Homo sapiens: one gene and its partners. The protein of the gene in region 1 interacts with the protein of each later gene in a biochemical or structural test. Each region holds a gene or a part of one and is shown in the gene's direction. Other genes may lie near its edges.

The links.
Region 2: of the proteins of MARK4 (region 1) and NEDD4, one has a biochemical effect on the other in vitro, tested with the Homo sapiens proteins (one large-scale study listed by BioGRID).
Region 3: of the proteins of MARK4 (region 1) and MAPT, one has a biochemical effect on the other in vitro, tested with the Homo sapiens proteins (2 studies listed by BioGRID).

What each region holds. Positions count from the first base shown.
Region 1 is NC_000019.10:45,254,166-45,257,816, forward strand, and holds part of MARK4 (MAP/microtubule affinity-regulating kinase 4), read left to right. Parts: intron 1-3,651. UniProt on the Homo sapiens protein: Serine/threonine-protein kinase. Phosphorylates the microtubule-associated protein MAPT/TAU. Also phosphorylates the microtubule-associated proteins MAP2 and MAP4.
Region 2 is NC_000015.10:55,836,578-55,840,228, reverse strand, and holds part of NEDD4 (E3 ubiquitin-protein ligase NEDD4), read left to right. Parts: intron 1-1,624; coding exon 1,625-1,720; intron 1,721-2,048; coding exon 2,049-2,122; intron 2,123-2,379; coding exon 2,380-2,440; intron 2,441-3,651. UniProt on the Homo sapiens protein: E3 ubiquitin-protein ligase which accepts ubiquitin from an E2 ubiquitin-conjugating enzyme in the form of a thioester and then directly transfers the ubiquitin to targeted substrates. Specifically ubiquitinates 'Lys-63' in target proteins.
Region 3 is NC_000017.11:45,988,517-45,992,167, forward strand, and holds part of MAPT (microtubule-associated protein tau), read left to right. Parts: intron 1-1,361; coding exon 1,362-1,559; intron 1,560-2,943; coding exon 2,944-3,070; intron 3,071-3,651. UniProt on the Homo sapiens protein: Promotes microtubule assembly and stability, and might be involved in the establishment and maintenance of neuronal polarity.

The sequences.
Region 1 (3,651 bases):
TCCCCAGGTTCCCTAGCAACAGTCCCGGGTGTTGGGGCGCCAGCCGGGCGGGAGGGAGCCAGGCCAGCTGGTGGTGCAGGCCAATTTTAGCTCCCACCCCCGGCCCCCAGGGGCTTTGTCACCCACTGCCCCAGCTGCCCCTCGCAGGGGTCCCTCAGCCATGCTGCCTTCAGCGTGGTGCCATCCCACCTCCAGCTGGCTGCCCTGGCGCCACCTGACAGGGCTTCTTCTCCAGGTCCTTATCTTGGTGGGGATCGGAGGCCTTATCTCCAGGATCTCCACCTGCCTCCCTGGTCTCTCCTGGGAAGAAGCCTGGGCCTGTGGGGAAGCCTGGCTCAGCACTCAGGAGGAATCAGCAGGCCGGGGTTCGCATCCCAGCACTCTGCTCCATCTGCCCTGTGACCTTGGGGGAGGGACTCCCCCTGCCTGAGCCTGGGTGTCCCCGTCTGAAGACTGCAGATCATAATTGGACCCACATTGGAGGCCAGGGTGAGGGCACGGCAGGCAGTGGCGGACGCGTGGTTAGAGCCCTGGCCGTGGTGGTTGGAACTGCCCAGCTGTGGGGAGGTTGTCTTTCTGCCCCTGTGAATGGACTGTGTGACCTTCACATGGCACCTTCCCTCTCCAAGGCTCAGTTTCTCTGCTGGAACATGGAGTCATTCCCTGGGCTACTGCAGGAATTAAGTGTAGGCGAGTTACCTGTTTACACAGGACTTGGTCCATAGCATGAGCTGCTTTGTAGAAATGGTTCATGACCCAGCGTGGTAGCTCACACCTATAATCCCAGAACTTTGGGAGACCCAGGCAGGAGGATGGCTTGAGCCTGGGAGCTGAAGACTAGCCCGGACAACATAGCAAGACTCCATCTCTACAAAAAAATTTAAAAATCAGCTGTGTGTGGTGGTGCACTCCTGTGGTCCCAGCTACTCAGGAGCCTGAGATGGGAGGATTTGCTTGAACCCAGGCAGTTGAGGCTCCAGTGAGCCTTGATTACACCACTGCACTTCAGCCTGGGTAACAGAGCAAGGCCCTGTCTCAAAAAAAAAAAAAAGGTTCAGGTGTGAGAGGCAGTGTGGTATTGTGACAGAGAAGAGCATCAAGTCTGGTGGAAACTATCGGGCACGGTGGCTCATGCCTGTAATCCCAGCACTTTGGGAGGCCGAGGTGGGCAGATCACCTGAGGTCAGGAGTTCAAGACCAGCCTGGCCAACATGGTGAAACCCCCTCTTTACTAAAAATACAAAAATTAGACGGTTGTGGTGGCGGGCGTCTGTAATCCCAGCCACTCGGGAGGCTGAGGCAGGAGAATTGCTTGAACCCAGGAGGTGGAGGTTGCAGTGAGTTGAGATCGTGCCATTGCACTCCAGCCTGGGCAACAAGAGTGAAACTCTGCCAAAAAAAAAAAAAAAAAAAAAAAATACTGGTGGAAACTGTTTGGGTTCAGATCGTGGGTCCGGGTCTCACTTTCCCCACCTGTAAAATGGAGATAATAGTGTGGTAATGGCCTCATATTGCATCAATGACCAGCATTAATTAAACGTTAGTTGTCGTTGCTATCAAGTGGCCCGGCAGTGTCTTTCTCAGAGACTTGGGCCCCCAGCCCATCAGCCTCTTGGCCTTTCTTCCTCCCCTCCTGTTGTCCTCCTGCTTCCCACTCCCAGCCGGAAGGGCACAGGCAGAACTGCCTTGGCGGGAGGCCTCAGGCACCCTGAGCCCCAGCCCTGAAAGGGAGACAGTCCCTGGGGCTTCCAATCAGGCCAGGGCAGCTCAGAGCAGGCAGGTGACCTGCGGGGGAGAGAGGCCAGGGAGGGACAGGACAGTAGGAACAGAACATCAGGAGGAGAGAAGCCATGGTGTGGGAGACAGCAAGTCAGGGCGCTTCTCAAGCCCTGGGTGTTTCAGGGGGTGGCAGAAGCAACAGTGTTTCCCATGGAAGGAGGATAACAGGGATTCAACCAGGTCTCAGGGCCAGTGAAAGACTTGGTTACCCTGCAGGGGGTGGTGGCTCAGGCCTGTAATGCCAGCACTTTGGGAGGCCGAGGTGGGTGGATCACCTGAGGTCAGGAGTTCAAGACCAACCTGGCCAACATGATGAAACCTCGTCTCTACTAAAAATACAAAATTAACCAGGTGTGGTGGCACATGCCTGTAATCCCAGCTACTCGGGAAAGCTGAGGCAGGAGAATCGCTTGAACCCAGGAGGCAGAGGTTGCAGTGAGCCAGACTGGGCCACTGCACTCCAGCTTGGGCAACAAGAGTGAAACTCTGTGTCAAAAAGAAAAAAAATAAGACTTGGTTACAATGTTTGGAGTCCAATCTGGGGTAACAGTGATTGGAATCAAATGTTAGGGGCATTCCACTGGGAATCAAATGTTGACATTTGGGTTTGAAGTAGAATTTGGGGGCTGGAGAGGGGACAGTTGATGGGTAAAATAGCAAGTCAGGACCAGTGGTGGTGGAGGAGGAGCCTCGAGTCCAGATTGAGGTCAGCGTTGATTGGGGTTGAGGGCAGCCTCATTTAGGGCAAAATATTGTAGAGTTGATCCAGGCTCCAGGACAGGCATATCCTGCTTTTTCGCACTTTGCCTTATTGAGCTTCACAGATACAGTGTTTTCTACAAATTGAAGGTTTCTGACGACCCTGTGTTGAGCAAGCCTGTAGGCTCCATTTTTCCAACAGCCTGTGCACAATTTGTGTCTCTGTCACATTTTGGTAATTCACACAGTATTTCAAACTTTTTCATCATTATTATAATAGCTGTTATGGTGATCTGATATCAGTGATGTTTTTCCTCTTTTTTTTTTAGAGACAGGGTCTTGCTCTGTTGCCCAGGCTGGAGTGCAGTGGCATGATCATAGCTCACTGCAGCCTTAACCTCCTGGGGCTCAAGCGATCTTCCCATCTCAGCCCCCTGAGTAGCTGGGACTATAGGCATATGCCACCATGCCTAGCTAATTTTTTTTTTTTAAGTTTTTCTAGAGATGGGTGTCTCGCTTCATTGCCCAGGCTGGTCTCAAACTCCCTGGCTTCAAGCGATCCTCCCGCCTTGTCAATGATTTTGTTTTATTGTGATTCACTGAAGGTTCAGATGATTGTTAGCATCTTTTAACAAGAAAGTATTATAAAATTAAAGTATGTACATTGTTTTTATAGCTGTAATGCTATTATTGCACACTCAGTAGACTGCAGTATGATGTAAACACAATTTTTCTTTCTCTTTTTTTTTTTTTTTTTTGAGATGGAGTCCCACTCTGTCACCCAGACTGTAGTGCAGTGGCGCGATCTCAGCTCACTGCAACCTCTGCCTCCCTGGTTCAAGTGATTCTCCTGCCTCAGCCTCCTGAGTAGCTGGGATTACAGGTGCGCGTCACCATGTCCGGCTAATTTTTGTATTTTTAGTAGAGACGGGGTTTCCCCGTGTTGGCCAGGCAAGTTTCACACTCTGACCTCAGGTGATCCACCTGCCTTGGCCTCCCAAAGTGCTGGGATTACAGGCGTGAGCCACCTCGCCTGGCCCATAATATTTTTTTTTTTTTTTTTTGAGACAGAGTCTCGCTCTGTCACCCAGGCTGGAGTGCAGCGGCGCGATCTCGGCTCACTGCAAGCTCCACCTCCTGGGTTCATGCCATTCTCCTGCCTCAGCCTCCCAA
Region 2 (3,651 bases), on another chromosome or scaffold:
GCTTTTTTTCTAGATTTACTTTATCACATACCTATCTGTCTATCCATCAGTCTGTCTTAGTTTCTTCATGCATTTCAGAGTAAGTTATAGATAACATTAAACATCCCACTAAATACTTCAATAGGTTATACCAAGTTATATGTCTTTTGAATCAGTATTTGCATTATGATCTTTTATGATGAATGTTATATATATATATATATATATATATATATATATATATATATATTTTTTTTTTTTTTTTTTTTTTTTTTTGAGACAGAGTGTCACTCTGTTGCCAAGCTGGAGTGCAGTGGCGTGATCTTGGCTCACTGCAACCTCTGCTTTCCAAGTTCAAGCAATTCTCTGCCTCAGCCTCCTGTGTAGCTGGGACTACAGGCGCGCACCACCACACTCAGCTAATTTTTGTATATTTAGTAGAGACGGGGTTTCACCGTGTTCACCAGGATGGTCTCAGTCTTTTGACCTCGTTATCCGCCTGCCTCAGCGTCCCAAAGTGCTGGGATTACAGGCATGAGCCACCGCACCTGGCCAAATGGTGTATATTTTTTAAATGGCAGTCGAAAGGCAAAGCGTTATGGTTAGGTTCCTAGAAAAAAACAGAAGCCCAAGGATTAAACCCCGGACTGTAGCCGTGTTGTTTCCTGTGCTGCTGAATAGCCTCACACAATGTGTGTTCACATGAATTCCAGGGCATCTTCCTTAGTACCAAGTTCATTTTTTATTCTTTTCTTATTACATATTAACAGCACAAACAGTGTGATTCTTTATAAATCATAAGATTGCACAGTTACTTGAGTTGGTTCATTGAGCCTCTATATTTATTAAGAGATTTTTCTTTAACTCGGGCTGGGTATAAACAATGGCCTCCTCATAGCTACTTAAACATTTCACACTTAGTGCCGGACACAGGGGTGTGCAACTGTAATCCCAGCACTTTGGGAAGCTGAGGCAGGTGGATCACTTGAGGTCAGGAGTTTGAGACCAGCCTGGCCAACATGGTGATACTCTGTCTCTACAAAAAATACAAAAATTAGCCAGGCGTGGTGGTGCGCGCCTGTAGTCCCAGCTACTTGGGAGGCTGAGGTAGGAGGATCACTTGAGTCAAGGAGGTCGAGGCTGCAGTGAGCCACAGTCGCCCCACTGCACTCCAACCTAAGGGACAGAGCGAGACCCTGTCTCAAAAAAAAAAAAATTAAATTAAAAAATAAAAATAAAACATTTAACACGAAGTCACATAGGCATATGAGGAATGTGCTAAGTGCTCCTGGATATCCAGAGAAGTTAGGTTTTATCTGAAAACTTCTGTATTCATTCCTTTAACTGGATGATAAAATCTGTACCTCCACTGCTTCCACATAAACATAGATTCTAAACTTTTAAGTAGGCACCAATTGATTAATTGATTGATGCATTTTTACTCTTGCCCTTACCTGTCATCCATCTCTTTTTGTAATACACACACATACACACATACATTTTTGTTTATATATGTGTGTAAGTAAAGGATGTCCATCTGACCTCTCATCTTTTACCCAATTATTCAGACCCTCTACATACTGTTTTTTGCAATTTCAGGTGTGTTATAGATACAAATTTTAAATATGTAATTTTTCCCATCTAGGATAGTGAATATTACAATTCCCTAAGATGGATTCTTGAAAATGACCCAACAGAATTGGACCTCAGGTTTATCATAGATGAAGAACTTTTTGGACAGGTTTGTGAATTTTGATCAGTTAAAATGGCACATAAATTGTGAGACAAATGTTTAGATGTTAATACGTACACTTAATACATTCCTAGGCTCTGTTTTTACATTCATTTCCCAGTAACAAAAGCTGTCTCTGAGCAAGAATTTGTACTTTCTTTAACATTTGACTCGTTCCATATTTATTTTAGTAAAACTAGTATTTTAAGTTTTCTTAGTTTTTAACTTTTGACTGGACTTAATTTAAAACACCAAGTTTCTCGTATAACTACAATATGTATACTTTTTAAATTTTTCTCGCTAAAATAACATATCAAGTTATTGTGTTTAATTTTAGACACATCAACATGAGCTGAAAAATGGTGGATCAGAAATAGTTGTCACCAATAAGAACAAAAAGGAATATATTTAGTAAGTATTTTATTAGTATGTATTTTATTGGATATAATTTTGTACTTTATTCCAGAAAGACTCTTCTTACCATCTTTCTCTGTCCCCTTGTCCAGAATCTCAGTGTTCTTTTTCTCTATCACAATGCAGTAGCAAGCACTCATATTCAGCTTTTACCTTGGTCTCAGCTAGCCTTTAGTTTTTGTTTCTAACTAGAATAATTGTGCCTCAGAATTTTGTCTTGGTTCACATGAAAATGAAATGTTGTTTCTTTTTAGTCTTGTAATACAATGGCGATTTGTAAACCGAATCCAGAAGCAAATGGCTGCTTTTAAAGAGGTATTCATTTTCTTTTATTTGCTCTTCCATAATGTCACAGTATAACCTATAAGTTTCAAATATTAGGCCTCATCACATCTGAGAAAAATAAGTATATGGCTTGTTTTGTGAAATCATTCTAAATTATATTTTTATATTAACTAAATATTCCATTCAGTCATTCAAGAAGTCTAGACAATAAACATGGACAGGTCCCCTTTCCCCCAAGCCTTTTCCCTATTCCATTCTCTTCACTTTAGGACAGCAAAAGAACAAGAGTGCTTTAGGGATAGTATAACATATTGTTTGTTTTTCTAAATAGGATCACCTTACACATTTTGTTTTGTGACTTACTTTCTTCTTTTTTTTTTTTTTTTGAGCGCGGAGTGAGTCACTTTGTCGCCCAGGCTGGAATGCAGTGGCGTGATCTCGGCTCACTGCAACCTGCACCTCCCAGGTTCAAGCAATTCTCCTGCCTCAGCCTCCTGAGTAGCTGGGATTACAGGTGCCCGCCACCACGCCTGGCTAATTTTTGTATTTTTAGTAGAGACATGGTTTCACCATGTTGGTCGGGCTGGTCTCAAACTCCAGACCTCAAGTGATCCATCCACCTTGGCCTCCCAAAGTGCTGGGGTTACCAGTGTGAGCCACCGTGCTCGGCCTACTTTCTTCTTTTATCAGATATTTATTAGGGATATTTACATGTGACGACATATAGCTGCCTTTCTTTGTGGCTATATTTTATTCAGAATATAAATTAAAAAGTTACTTAAATTTTTCCAATTGGTAGACAGATTGTCAGAGCACTCATTTCTTAAGCTAACTTACAATCTTCTGTTAAATATGTATCTGGCTGGGCATGGTGGCTGACGCCTAAAATCCCAACACTTGAGGAGGCTGAGGCGGGAGGATTGCTTGAGCCCAGGAGTTCGAGACCAACGTGGACAACATAGGGAGACCTTATCTCTATAAAAAATTAAAAATTTGGGCGCGGTGGCTCATTCCTGTGATCCCAGCACTTTGGGAGTCCGAGGTGGGCAGATTGCCTGAGGTCAGGAGTTTGAGACTAGTCTGGCTAATGTGGTGAAACCCTGTCTCTACTAAAAATACAAAAAAATTAGCCGGACGTGGTGGCGTGCACGTGCAGTCCCAGCTACTCGGGAGGCTGAGGCAGGGGAATTGCTTGAACCTGAGAGGCAGAGGTTGCAGTGAGCCAAGATTACGCCACTGCA
Region 3 (3,651 bases), on another chromosome or scaffold:
CGCCTCCATAGGGACAGGCGTGCAGACACCCGTCCCTGGCTGCTTCCTCTTGTGGAATGGGTTCAAAAGTAAGCAGTGTTGTTTACACTGACAAACTGAAAAAAAAAGAAAAAGAGATAACATTGGAGGCTTGGCACAGTGGCTCATGCCTGTAATCCCAGCACTTTGGGAGGCTAAGGTGGGAGGATGTCCCCAGCCCAAGAGTTCTAGACCAGCCTGGGCAACATAGCAAGACCCCATCTCAAAAAAAAAATTTAATTGGCCAGGCAGAGGTGGGAGGATCACTTGAACCCAAAGGGTGGAGGCTGCAGTGAGCCGTGATGGCACCACTGCACTCCAGCCAGGGCAACAGAGGGAGACCCTGTCTCTAAAACAAACAAACAAACAAACAAACAAAAGAGTTAACATTGGCCAGATTAGGATTCACCAGATAGTGTTAATATTAGTTTGATTTGAGACTTTAATCAGAAAGCACATGTGTGGTGGGGGTGGGTGTAACCTAAGTCAGGTAGAATCTTTCCAACTTGGGGGGGGCACACTCCTGATTGTAGCCATATGAGTCTGTCAGTGTGGTGGAAGAGGCCATGGGTTAATGGGCAGGTAAAAAAGCACCTTGCCTGGAATTGAGTAGAAAGTAAGGCCCTTCAGACCCCGTGACACACTTGGGGACATTTTCTTGAGTAACATCCTAAGATTCATGTACCTTGATGATCTCCATCAACTTACTCATGTGAAGCACCTTTAAACCAGTCGTCTCCAAATTCAGGGGCACAGTAACATCCAACAGGCTGGAGAAAGAACGTACTAGAACTTCCATTCCTTTTTCATGTCCTCTTCTAAAAGCTTTGTCAGGGCCAGGCGCGGTGGCTCACGCCTGTAATCCCAGCACTTTGGGAGGCCGAGACGGGTGGATCACGAGGTCAGGAGATCGAGACCATCCTGGCTAACACAGTGAAACCCCATCTCTACTAAAAATACAAAAAAACGAGCCGGGCGTGGTGGTGGGCGCCTGTAGTCCCAGCTACTCGGGAGGCTGAGGCAGGAGAATGGCGTGAACCCAGGAGGCAGAGCTTGCAGTGAGCCGAGATTGCACCACTGCAGTCCAGCCTGGGCGACAGAGCGAGACTCCGTCTCAAAAAAGAAAAAGAAAAAGAAAAAGAACTGTGATTGGGGAGGACGGTCACTTTCCTGTTCTTACTGATCAGAAGGGATATTAAGGGTACCTGATTCAAACAGCCTGGAGATCACTGCTTTCAACCATTACCTGCCTTATTTATTTTTAGTTACTGTCCTTTTTTCAGTTTGTTTCCCTCCTCCATGTGCTGACTTTTATTTTGATTTTATTTATGTTTATGTTTAAGACATCCACACGTTCCTCTGCTAAAACCTTGAAAAATAGGCCTTGCCTTAGCCCCAAACACCCCACTCCTGGTAGCTCAGACCCTCTGATCCAACCCTCCAGCCCTGCTGTGTGCCCAGAGCCACCTTCCTCTCCTAAATACGTCTCTTCTGTCACTTCCCGAACTGGCAGTTCTGGAGCAAAGGAGATGAAACTCAAGGTAAGGAAACCACCTTTGAAAAGAACCAGGCTGCTCTGCTGTGGTTTGCAAATGTGGGGTTTGTTTATTTGTTTTTTAGCCTCAAAGACCTTTCTTCAAATGAGTTCTGGCATAGAAGCACCGTGTAAAATAGTTAGAATTCTGGGCAAAGGGGAAAAGAGAGCTGGGGGCCATCCCTCTCAGCACCCCACAGGCTCTCATAGCAGCAGCTCCTAAGACACCTGGTGGGACCTTGGTTTCGAAATCGCTACTCTAAGGCTGGGCACGGTGGCTCACACCTGTAATCCCAGCTCTTTAGGAGGCCGAGGAGGGTGGATCACCTGAGATCAGGAGTTCGAGACCAGCCTGGCTAACATGGCAAAACCCTGTCTCTACTAAAAATACAAAAATTAGCCGGGCGTGGTGGTATGCGTGGTGGTAATCGCAGCTACTCGGGAGGCTGAGGCACAAGGATTGCTTGAACCCCAGAGGCAGAGGTTGTAGTTAGCTCCAGCTTGGGCGACAGAGCAAGACCCTGTCGCAAAAATTGTTTAAAAAACAAACCCAAAATTGCTACTCTCATTGGGTTCCTTTGCCCATTCCTGATTTTGGCAAGAGAAATGCTTCCAGATTGCCCTGATCTGGGTAGGACAGCATCACGCCATAGCAACACTGCCCCGTGAGCTCACTGCCCCCTCAACTAGCTTGTGGTCCTTGGTTAATGTCAGTTTCTTTTTTGAGTTTGTGTTATGTCTAAGGGTCATCTGCTGGGTAACGGAACCCAGGGACTGCCCTAGTCCCTAGACTGTGCCATGCCCGACTCTGCCAGCTTTGTCAGTGATGCTGGTGCTCGCCTCCTCGGGTGCTCGCCTGGTCTGAGCACACCCAAGGAGTTCTTGAGGCCTTAGGGTTGTTTGCGAGAGAATGAAAGAACACGACCTAGCTCTCTTTAGCATCCTTGGTCAGGTTCAACACTGCCCCCAGGGGCCTCTGGTGGAGCCAACCACCATCAGCCAAATAAATCCATAATTAGAGTCAGAAAATGGATGTCTGCATATGTGTAGTGCACTAATGTCCTGCCGATGATTGACATGGAGTGGAGAGTGACCTGATCATTGCTGTGAGCTCTGCTGGCCTTGGCACAACTCATGCTGATAACTAATGCACACAGTTCCTCTGGGAGGAAATGTCCTCAGGGAACTTGGAGTTTGGGTGGGGATGTGGGTTTGTGTGCCCAGCAAGCCCTTGTGGTTGTAGCAGACACTAGTGGCATCTAGGAGGCAAAGGGTCACCCCAGTCTTAGCCACGTTTTGAGTCAAGGTGGCGGAGTGGGGCTGGTGTTGACTCTTGGTGGCAGTAACTTTTCCCAATGGTGAAAAACCCCTCTATCATGTTTCATTTACAGGGGGCTGATGGTAAAACGAAGATCGCCACACCGCGGGGAGCAGCCCCTCCAGGCCAGAAGGGCCAGGCCAACGCCACCAGGATTCCAGCAAAAACCCCGCCCGCTCCAAAGACACCACCCAGCTCTGGTAAGAAGAACGTTCTCTTGAATCTTAGAGGAAGCTGAAGCTCTCAGAGGTACAGCCTTCATTTTAGGAGGCCTTAGGCCACTGAGAATGAATAACCCCTGGCAGCTGGTCAGCAGCTTGCAGTTTACTAAGCACTGGAGTCTTCATTGCCTTCTCAGTCCTTTTGATTTCTGAGGCAAATGTTGAATCCCTACCTTTTTTTTTTTTTTTCTTTTGAGACAGAGTTTCGCTTTTGTTATCCAGGCCGGAGTGCAGTGGTGTGATCTCAGCTCACTGCATCCTCCACCTCCCAGGTTCAAGCGATTCTCCTACCTCAGCCTCCCTAGTAGCTGGGATTACAGGCACCTGCCACTATGCCCGGCTAATTTTTTGTATTTTTAGTAGAGACAGGGTTTCACCATGTTGGCCAGGCTGGTCTCGAACGCCTGACCTCAGGTGATCCACCTGCCTCGGCCTCCCAAAGTGCTGGGATTACAGGCATGAGCCACCACTCCCAGCCTGAATCCTCACTTTTTATCAATGAAGAAATTGAGGCTGATTCTGCAGCATGATAAAAAAAAATACAGAAAAAGGAAAAAAAA